Linked DNA regions of Homo sapiens: region 1 is linked to region 2. The links come from fine-mapping of genetic effects on gene expression. Tissue or cell type: testis. Region 2 holds a variant in brackets; the other region holds the start of a gene. All regions are shown on one strand. Distances are between the middles of the regions.

Region 1 (5,369 bases), 34 kb after region 2:
TGTAGCGTAATAACTCAGACCTTTGCAGCCAGAAGAACACATTCTCAAAGAGATCCTTTAACTTGAAATAGTGATTCTGTCTGCCACTCCCGGCTTCCAGTTCGGGGTAGGAATTCACACACCCCAGGGACAGAACAAAAGTCTACAGGAAGACAGGTGGTGGTAAACACAGAGGAAAGGGATTTTTATATCACCATATAATCACATTTTTGGTTCTCTAGTGTGTTCCCCCACAGAGCTCAAAGCTTTCTGCAAAGCCTTTCATCTCCCTGCAGCAAGTAGGCAGTGAGCTATTGTCGCCCCGATTTTTGCAGGGGGTGAATGCCAGTGATCGGGGATCTCCCGTCGAGGCAGAGACCAGGCCTCCAAGACCGCCCCAGCGAGGCATCCACGTGGCCACCCACCTACCGGAGGGGTGCTGGGTAAGGAAGCCGATCCATTGTTCTGGCTTTCAAAGGAACCACAGATCCGAAAACAGGCAAAGGGGGAAAGGAGGGCCCAGAGACGATGCCACCCCATAAGCCCCCATCCCAGCGCCTGCCAGGGACCGCGAGTGCCTAGCGTGGGTGATCAGTCTTCGTTTCTTCCTCCCCCTCAGCAGCAGGCCCCACTGGGAAAAGTGGAAGGCTGGCTCCGTGCTCTTTGTGGGTGGGGGGGAGATGAAAAAGAAACGAAAACACCACAAGCAAGTGACCTGCCAGGAACACAAGGTCCTCAAGAAAGGGAAGCCCAGACATTGGTCTGGAGAGCATGGGGCTCTGGGAAGAAAGTGCTCTCTCTTCTCCTGGTCTTGGCTATGTTCCAGAGGATTTGAACCACCTCCATCGGCCTGTGCTCAGGGAGAGGGTGGAGAAGGGGTCCCCCACAGCTAAGCCGGCAAGGGGAAGCTTCACTGGGACCCTTGCTAGCAGCCCCCCTGCCCACCCCTCCCAAGGGGTTCCTAAGATGAGGCCTACAGGATCTGGGCAGGGAGCAGAAAGCCCAGGGGAGGCAGCCACACACAGCAGGGCAAGAAGCAGGGTGACCCCGGCGCCACCGCACCAACCCCACAGGGGCAGCGCAGGCGGGCTCACCAGGCCGTCTGGGTCCACGGGCGGCACAGGATCCTCCGGAAGGCACGGCGGAAGTCCTGGTTGAAGATGGTGTAGATAACAGGGTTCAGTGAGCTGTTGCAGTAGCCGATCCAGAAGAAGAACTGGAAGAGGCCATGGGGCACCTTGCAGTGCTTCGGGCAGATGGCTCCCAGGCTGTAGCTGAAGAAGAAGGGGAACCAGCAGAGCACAAAAACGCCAATGACCACAGCCAGCACGAAGGTGAAGCGCTTCTCCCGGGTCAGCTGCGCCCGTCGACGCCACCACTGCCCACCTATAGCACCCACGCCCCTGCCCAGGAGCACCTGGCCACGTAGGGTGGCCAGCACCCGGGAGCCCTGTGGCTGCTGCAGCGGGGGGCTGCAAGCTGAGGCCGGAGACACTGGCACTGCCTGGGGTTCACACTCTTCCTCCTCCTCCTCCTCCTCTTCCTCCTCTTCAGCTTCATCCTCTGGAGATGCCCCACAAACACCCTCCTTCTGGCCCTGGCCTGAGTTGGGAAGGGCAGCCCAACTGGGTGGCAAGGCCCGGGTCCCAGTATCTTCAGGGGTCTCCCCCTCCTCCTTCTCCCCAGTGGACTTCGAGTGTCCGTTGACCTCTCTGGCAGAAGCCACAGAGGCCAGGGCTGGCAGTTTGGCTGAGGCCAAAGCCCCACCATGGTCGGGTCGGGGCTGCTTGGACTCACCCTGCCCAGGCCCCCCCTTGGCCCTGGGACCTCTGCGGTTGCTGCGTTTGGCGATCAGGTAGATGCGCAGGTAGACAAGGATCATGATGAGGCAAGGAGCAAAGAAAGATCCGATGCTGGAGGCCAGGATGTACCAGGCCTCCTGGTTGAGCTTGCACTGGGGGCGCCCGCGCGGCTGGGGGCCCTGGTCGCCCTTGTAGATGAGGGGCGGCAGCGAGATGACGGCGGCGATGAGCCACACAGTGAGGATGATGCACTTGATGCGGCGCGGGGTGCGCTTGGAGTTGTACTCCAGCGCGCGGCTCACGGCCCAGTAGCGGTCCAGGCTGATGGCGCACAGGTGCACGATGGACGAGGTGCAGAAGAGCACGTCGAGCGCCAGGTACACCTCGCACCACGTGCGCCGGAAGTACCAGTAGCCCAGCAGCTCGTTGGCCAGCGAGAAAGGGATGATGAGCGTGGCCACCAGGATGTCGGCGGCGGCCAGCGACACCAGGAACAGGTTCTGAGGGGCGCGCAGCGAGCGGCTGGTCAACACAGCCAGGATGACCAGAGCGTTGCCGAAGATGGTAAAGAGAATGAGGAAGGTGATGGCCGCCGCTATGGCCGCTGTGGCCTGCACGGAGTAGGGGTCCTGGTGGTCCATGACGGGGCGGGAGGTGGGCAGAGGGAGCGCTGCCCGCCCAGTGCGCACCGTGGACGACAGCGCTGCCCGGCTCGGCTAGACAAGAGCGTCGCCCCTCGGGCGGCGCCGAGGGCGCTGGAGCCCCATGGCCTGGACGAGCGGGGCCTAGGAGGTCGGGAACACCCAGGACCAGCAGCCGCCCTCCTACATCCTCCTCCACCGGTGCCCGGGGTCCCTGCCGTCCGCCCCAGAGAAGTTTCCCAAGTTGTCCCGCCGCCGTCCCCGTCCCGCCCGGGACCGGAGAAAGTCGCGCCCTCCCGCCACGCGGATGCCGTACGCTCTGGGGGCGCGGGCCGGGCTGGGCCGGTTCTTAAAGGAGGCGCGGAGGACCTTGCGCCCGCTCAGCTCGCAGGCTTTCGCCCCAGCCGCGCCTGCAGGGGAGTGGGGAGCGGGGAGAGCGGCTGGAGGAAGGCGGAGACTGGAGGCGGGCGCGGGAGCGGGCGGGAGGCGGGGCGGTGGGCGGACCGAGGTGGGCTGAAGGTGCGCTTCGCGGGAGGCGTGAGCCCGGGACTTCCCGCGCCCGGACCCCGCCCAGCGCCTCTACCTGCCTTCCTCCCGGCGGCCGCGCCTCGGGAGAGCGGAGGGGCCCGGCGGCCGGGGTCTCCGGCCCCCAGGCAGGACGCGCGCAGCTGTGGAGGGGTCGGTGGGTGCCGGGAGCCGGGACGCGGAGCTAGCGCGCGGGCCGGCACCGGGACGGGACACTTCTCCCGGGGGAACCGGGCTGGGCCCGGCGCCGGTGCGCCCTGCTCTGCCTTCCGCCGCTCGGGAGCCCGCAGGGAGGGCAGGGCGGGCGTGGGGCTGGGGCGCCGGGTCGCAATACACCACAACCCCGCCCGGCTCGGCCGTGGAGACGCCCTGCGGAGAGGTGGGGGAGCGGGGAGCGGGGAGCCGGTCCCGACCCTTTCCCAGGCGCTGCCCCTCGCGGACCAGCTCCGTCGGGCCAGCGCCGCGCGAGGAGGGCGCGTCCCGGCCTGCGAGCGCCCCCTGCTGCCGCCCGCGGGCCCAGCCCGTCAGCGGCAGCCCGGGTCCCGGAGCCAGCGCTCGCAGCCTGGGTCTTAGGACTTCGGCTTCTTGTGTCTCCGCAGCTGCCTCAGTTTCCTCCATTAAGGGCAAAGGAGGTAACAGGGAAACTGGCTTGGACTCGAATCACAGCATCAACTGCGATTCAGCCAAGGGTTTGTACGGGGCACAGGGCGAGCTGCCGCCCCTTGACTAATGCGAAGGGGAGGTCCCTTCCTTGCCGTGGGGGAGTAAAGGGTGGGGACTTTGTCACACAGCTCCGAGAAAAAGCAGGTCTCAGGGGCAGCCGTGAAGAGAGGAGCGTCCCTCCGCTTCTGTAGTGACCCCGGGGGAAGGGGTTGACCCTCCCTCCCTGCTGCGGTCCTGCCCCACATACACACTGAAGCCCTTCTGGGGGTGACAGTGGAAAGAGGGTTGGGGTAAAAAGAAACTTCAGACTAAGGCCCCCCACTCGCCTTCAAAGCGCTATGAGCAACTGTTCTCCCTCAGGGCCCCAACTCACTCTCCCTGCCACACCGCCACCAGCACCAGCCTGGGCAGCCCTGAGGGCATGTTTCCCCGGTTCTGGAGCCCCTAATGTCATAAGCCCCGCCTCGAGCCAGGCCTCTTATTCACAGCCCACGACTCTGCAAGGCATCCTCTGTATAAATAAGCACCAATCCACCTCTGACAGTGGGGCTCCCCCAGGCCCCGTCCAACCTGCTGGACCTCCTCTCCTCCCTGCTCCCTCCATGGGAGCAGAGCACGTGGCCTCTCAGTGCCCACGGACAATGTCTAGCGCCTCCCCAGGCTCAGGTGGGAGGTGCCCCGTCTCAGGTACCCAGACCAGCACCCCCAGCCACGGGGGTGTGTTGGGAGTAGGTGCCTCCTTGATCCCCCCATCCCTGTCATTCTGCCAGACTCCCCAGCTTCTGGTGAGGTGCAAGTGCCCACAGCCCATGGGGTGGATGCTGCCAGGGCTGGGTTCGGACAGGGCAATCAGCCTCCTTCCCACCCCCAACCCTAGGCTTCAGCTCAAAACCGACCACTCTGCTAGACACAGTTTCCTGGATGTGTCTTTCCCACCCTCTGGGCTGGGCAGGGCCTGGGCGCCGCCTGGGCATACATAACCAGTGATGGAGAGATGCCAGTAGCTCTTTCCCTGAGGAAGGACAGAGGGTGGCCATGAGAGCCTGGGAGCAGCTACTTAGGCAGGTGCCTGCCTATCCAGGGGCTCCCAAGGCCTTCACAGTCTGGGCCTGCTAGAGGCCCACATGGGCATCGGGAGGAACCGCCTTTCCACTGTCTCCAACCACACTTGGGCTGGGGGCCAGTGAGCAGCTCCCCAGACTCTGCAGCCAGCATCAGCCTTTGTCTTCTGACCCATCTTCCTTCAAGGGATGCTGCAGGAGCTGAGACTGGGTTGCCCGTGTGCCCTCCCCACCCTGCAAGTCCCCACTGAGGACGCTTACCTGGGCCTTCCTAGAAGTGACAACTTTGGGTCTACTGAGTGCCAAGCCTTGCTAGGCATCTTTCATTGGGCCAGCTAGGCACTAGGCCAGGTGGGGACAGCCAGGGACAGAGTCTACAGCTGGCAGACCTGGGAGATGTGTGCCCTCCGGGCAGCAGGAGCTGCCTTGGCATCCATACCGCTGCCCCAGGCTGTCACCGTCTACTGCAGCTGTCTCCTCCTGGCTCCACCCCAGGATGGACAAGTGCAGCGTGGGTGCGCCAGCTCTCCACGGCCACGCAGGCCATAACATAACTCAGCTCCTGCTCCTCTCGGCGGCTCACCATCTCCCCCCGCACACACACACCTTCAGGCCTTGCCTGCTCCAACCAGCCCCATGAGGCTGCCAGGTGCAGGAATTGGAGCCTACTAGCATAGCAAGGCTTCCTTCAGCTCTTC
Region 2 (5,369 bases):
GAAGAATGTGTAATTTTCTGTTGTTGGATGAAGTAGTCTATAGATGTCCATTTTATCCAGTTGATTGCTGGTGTTGTTGAGTTCAACTGTGTTCTTACTGATTTTCTGCTTGTTCCGTCTGCCGATTTCTGATCAACGAGTGTTGAAGTCTTCAGCTTTAGTAGTGGATTCATCTGTTTCTCCTTGCAGTTCTGTCAATTTTTCCCTTACATATTTCTATGCTCTGTTGTTAGGTGCATACACACATTCAGGATTGTTATGTCTTCTTGGAGAACTGACTCCTTTTTCTTATGTAATGCCCCTCTTTATCTCTGGTAACTTTCCTTGCTCTTTAAGTCTGCTCTGCCTGAATTAATACAGATATTCTGGGGGGTGTTTTAGTTAAATATTTGTATGGTGTATCTTTCTCCATCACTTTAATTTTAATCTAGATGCATCTTTATATTTAGAATGGGTTTCTTGTAGACTACATATAGCTGGGTCTGGTTTTTTTAATCTACTCTGATAATCTCTTTTATTTTATTTTTCTTTCCACCTTTTATATTAGGTTCAACGGGTACATGTGAAGGTTTATTATTACATGGGTAAATTCATGTCATGGGAGTTTGGTGTACAGGACATTTTGTCACCCAGGTAATAAGCAGATTACCCAATAGGTAGTTTTTCAATCTTCACCCTCCTCCCAGCCTCCACCCTTAAGTAGCCCCCGGATGTCTGTTGTTCCCTTCTATGTGTCTGTGTATACTCAGTGTTTAGCTCCCATTGATAAGTGAGAACATGCAGTATTTGGTTTTCTGTTTCTGTGTTAATTCACTTAAGATGATGGCCTCCAGCTCTATCCATGTTGCTGCAAAGGACATTGATTACATTCTTTTATATGGCTCTGTGGTATTCCATAGTGTATATATAGTCTATCATTGATGGGCATCTAGGTTGATTCCATGTCTTTGCTATTGTGAATAGTGCTGCGATGAACATATGCCTGCATGTGTCTTTACAGTAGAATGGTTTACATAACCTTGGGTATACACCCAGGAATGGAATTGCTGGGTTGAATGGTAGTTCTGTTTTAAGTTCTTTGATAAATCTCCAGACTACTTTCCACAGTGGCTGAACTAATTTATGTTCTGACCAGCAGTGTATAAGCATTCTCTTTCCTCCACAACCTCTCCAGCATCTGTTATTTTTTGACTTTTTAATAATAGCCATTCTGAGTGGTATGAGATGGTATCTCATTGTGGTTTTGATTTGATTATCGATATTGAGTATTTTTTCTATGCTTGTTGCCAGTGCAGATGTCTTTTGAGAAGTGTCTGTTCATCGCTTCTCGGCCTTTTGGCTAAGATCAAGTGAGAAGTGTCTGTTCATGTTCTTTGCCCATTTTTTAATGGGGTTGTTTGTTTTTTGCTTGTGGGTTTAAGTTCCATATAGATTCAAGACATTAGATTTTTGTTAGATGCATAGGCTGTAAACATTTTCTTTCATTCTATGGGTTGTCTGTTTACCCTGTTGATAGTTTCTTTTGCTTTGCAGAATCTCTGTCTTAGTATATTTACACCATTGGCATTCAAAATTATTATTGACATAGATTAATATCTACCATACCCGTTACTGTTTTTCTATTTGTTGCCTTGTTATTTGTTCCTCTATTTTTCCTCCCACTCTTTTTCTGCCTTTTGTGGTTTTTAATTGAGCATTTTATATGACCAAAAAATAAATAGTCAGCATATTTCTGCTATGGTCTGAATATGTTCCCCCAAAATTCATATGTTGAAATGTAACCACCAATATGATAAGAAATGAGGCCCTTAGGAGGTGATTAAGTCATGAGGGTGGAGCCCTCAATAATGGATTAGTGCTTTAACAAAATAGGTGAGAGGGGGCTATTCATCTTTTCCACCACGCAAGGACACAGCAGGAAGGTACCACCTTGGAAGCAGAGAGTGAGCCCTTATCAGACACCAAATCTGCTCTTCCCTTGATCTTAGACTTCCCAGCCTCCAGAACTATGAAAAATAAATTTGTATTATTTATAAATTATGCAGTCTGAGGTATTTTGTTATAGCAGCCCAAGCGCACTAAGACAACTTCCTTTTTAAAAAAAATACTTTTCTTCTTATTTTTTTCACTTGTTTCAGTATTTTCCCTAGATTTGCAGTATACGTCTACAACTAATGCAAATCCATCTTCAAATACCAAATACTACTTCATGGGTTGTACCAAGTATCTTATAATAACAAAATAATCCCAATTCCTGCCTCCTGCCTCTTATGTCTGCTCTCATTTATTTTACTCATACATAAGCATACTTAAGTATATGTTTCTATGTGTATAATATACATATACGATTAAATAATTGAATATATTGTTGCTATTATTATTTTGAACAAACTGTTACCTGTTAGATCAATTCAGAATAAAAAAAAAACACTTTCTATTTTATCCTCCCTCATTCCTTCTTCAGTGCTCTCTTTCTTTATATAGATCCAAGTTTCTGACTTACATGTTTTTCTTTTTCTTTGAAGAACTTTCAATATTTCTTACAAGGCACGTGTACTGACAATAAATTTCCTCAATTTTCGTTTGTCTGAGAAAGTCTGTATTTCTTCTTCACAGAGAGTTGTGGATGGAGCCCCTGCATCGCAGGATGAGAGGCCAGACCAGAGCAAGGCAGAGGATGCCATGTTCCTTCTCACCAACACGTGCTCCTCTCAAGCTGCCAACGGGGCGGCTGCACAACCAGAGTTCCAAATTACAAGCATGTTTTCTGGGAGGGGCC[A/G]CAAGGTAGACAACCCCCCACCTCCGGCAGCTGCCCAGGCCCTAAGCCCTGGAGTCCTGGCTCGGGCTATTACTGACCATCCCTGTGATCCTGGGCAAGAGGTCTATCTGCAGGGGAGGAGGTGCTGAACTAACACACTTGTGCGTAACTCAGGTGGCCCAGGTGGGCCTGCATCTCCAGGCCTTTCCAGGCAAAAGGTAAGAGTATTGGCTTGTGCGGCTCCCGTGACCCACACAAGGTCGTACCTTGGTGCCTTGCCATGAGCAGGCAGTCCTGCGAGTGCCACACTTCTTCCAAGGCCTGAGGTTTGGACAGCCTGGGTGCTCACTCTTTGCTGATCACTTCACAAAGCTATCAGATCCATCCCGCCTTGGTAATAGCTCTTCTCTCAAGGATGTCCTTCCAGCCTGCAAAATGCAAGGCTCCAAGCCTGTGTCCTGGCCAGGCCGGGGTCCAGTCTTGGACTCATACTTACCCCAGCCCACGGCTAGTCTGCAAGGGGACAAAATGGAGAGAGGGCCAAGACACCTGCCTGTCCCCCAGGACCTCTTTGCTTGGCCAGCTGAGGTCATCAGGTCATCGATTGGAAGGCCAGCTCTCCTCTCCACCTCCCATTCTGGCAGCACTTCACAGTTTACAAAGGAAGCTTCTCCACTCCCAAGAGTGTAACTGACCTCATAACTTCCTTAGAGAGGAGGGAAGCTGCTTGCCCAAGACCACACCACTTATAAGGAACAGGCAGGGACAGGGACTCACATCTCCTGTCTCTCCGAGCCCAGTGTAGCTTACACAGCTGCCCTCCCTCCCACCCCACTCATGGGCAGCTCTCAGGCTGCCTTAGGTGGCCAGGAAGCCCACCTGCCTCTTCCCCTAGTCCTGGGAGGGCCACCACATCCTGGGGTCAACATCCAATGAATTTGGCAGGCACTGTGCAGTGTCACTTTAATTAGGAGGCTGATGAGATGGAGGCTGCCATAGCTTTAGCAGTGGACTTTTCCTTAGTCCTGCAGACCCTCCCTACTCCAGCTCAGCCCAAGGCAGAGCCTGCTCGGTCAGCCACTGGCCTCCAGCCTGGCAGTGTCAGGAGGAGGGGAAGTCAGGCCTGGCGCCGGGGCTGGCCAGCCAGGGGCCAAGGACTGCAGAGCTGCTCACGTCCGCACATATCTAAGCATCCACATCCCATGACCTGCTTCCAAGGGCCAAGGCCCCCACCCCTCCACTGGGGACAGCTGCCTTCTGTGCTCAGCCAGAGGTGGCCCAAAAATTCTGGCTGGCCTAGCCTCGTGCCCCAACCTCAGCAGAGAGGCATGCAGAAGGCCACGTCTGCCAAGCCCTCCCAGGCCCTGCCCTACCCCAGGAGTGCATAGTCAGAGGCCATGCACATTCAAATCCTGACCCCTGGACACTGCTGCCCCATCTGGGCTCCTGCCACCCCCAATCCCTGCAAGACCCTAGGGAGAGAGGCTCACCCTCCCTCTCTAGCCTCAGAGCCATTCCCCACTTCCTCCCTCTTCCTTCCTTAGTGCCTGAGTTAGGCGCATGCCTGTCACCACCCACACTGACCTCCAGGCCCCATGAGGGGCCACTAACATAATTTATGTTCATTTTCTCTTCATCTCTCTTCCCATGGATGTCCTTGAATACACGTGCATCCTCAAAACTGTCTAGTAGCCAAAACCGGGGATAATGGATGAGCACGAGTTCTAACCCAGCAGTCACAAAGGCCTCCAGAAGGGCCTCGCTCCCAGGAGCCATAGGATTTGGGGCTCATGGCCATCATATCTAGATTCCAGGAGAGGAAGCTGCCCTGATACCCAGGGATGCTGCAGCAGGTGCAGGCGCTGTTGGGATATTGCTCACCAAGTCCCAGCCACGGGGTAAGGGAGAAATGCCCTCTGCCCCCGGGTTGTCTGCGCTGTTTCTGAGTCCAGCTCTGGCTTGACCGCATGAATCACACATCACGTCCCTGACCGGGTACCCTGTAGCCACCCTCAAGCAGCCATCTCTCCTGAAAGTGCAGGACACCCCCTGGGTTCCACCCCATCATCCCGCCCTTGCTTCTTGCTTGTGAGAGTTCTCACCGTGTGTGTGTGTCTGCCTTTGTCCTGTGCTGTGGGTTTTGTAGACCACCCTGGATGCCCTCTGGCTGGGTTTGATAGATCCTCTCAGCAAGCCTCATGCTTTGCACTGTCACAGTGGCGCCCTTTCCACCAGCCTGAATATGCCAGGGGGCGTCTACCATGTCTGAACAAACAAATGAACAAATGAACAGACCACGGTGTGAGCCTGAGAAGTGGTAGGGGCAGCCTCTGGCCAGCAGGCCCCTCCAGGCGGTCGTGGAGAGTGGGCACCTCCTCCAGGCCCAGGGCCTCCCTCCCTGGCAGCCGGGGCCACCTGCACTGCTTTGGCTAATCCGGCAAACCCTAAGGGAGGCCCAGAGGTGGAGCAGCGACCACAGCAGCCTGCCCTGAGGACCCCGCTCTGGTTTGCCGCTGCCTGCAACCAGCCAGGGGCTGCTGGGCTGGAGGAGGCAAGGAGGAGGGCGAGCCTAAAGGTGCACTCAGCAGGGGCTTCATGAAGAACGAGGGAC

Direction of the effects. Positions count from the first base shown, and alleles are read on the strand shown. Sizes are in standard deviations (SD) of each study's normalised expression.
In carriers of allele A in region 2, the expression in testis of the gene that starts at base 2,844 in region 1 tends to be lower than with G alone (large effect, 1.7 SD a copy in GTEx).

Evidence for each region.
Region 1: ADRA2B starts here. The variant in region 2 is fine-mapped to the expression of ADRA2B in testis (GTEx, PIP above 0.99). The same link has a PIP of 0.9 or more in hippocampus.

Annotation. Positions count from the first base shown.
Region 1 is chr2:96,113,728-96,119,096 of GRCh38, forward strand. ADRA2B (adrenoceptor alpha 2B) reads right to left here and starts at 2,844. Exons shown (of 1, transcript NM_000682.7): 1 at 1-2,844. The coding sequence starts at 2,422. The coding sequence ends at 1,070. RefSeq lists silencers at 2,744-2,833, 2,934-3,093, 3,104-3,563, 3,604-3,673.
Region 2 is chr2:96,079,527-96,084,895 of GRCh38, forward strand. No RefSeq gene overlaps it. Among named protein-coding and RNA genes, the nearest start is that of ADRA2B, 34 kb to the right of the region's middle. The variant A/G (reference allele first, on the strand shown) is at 2,780.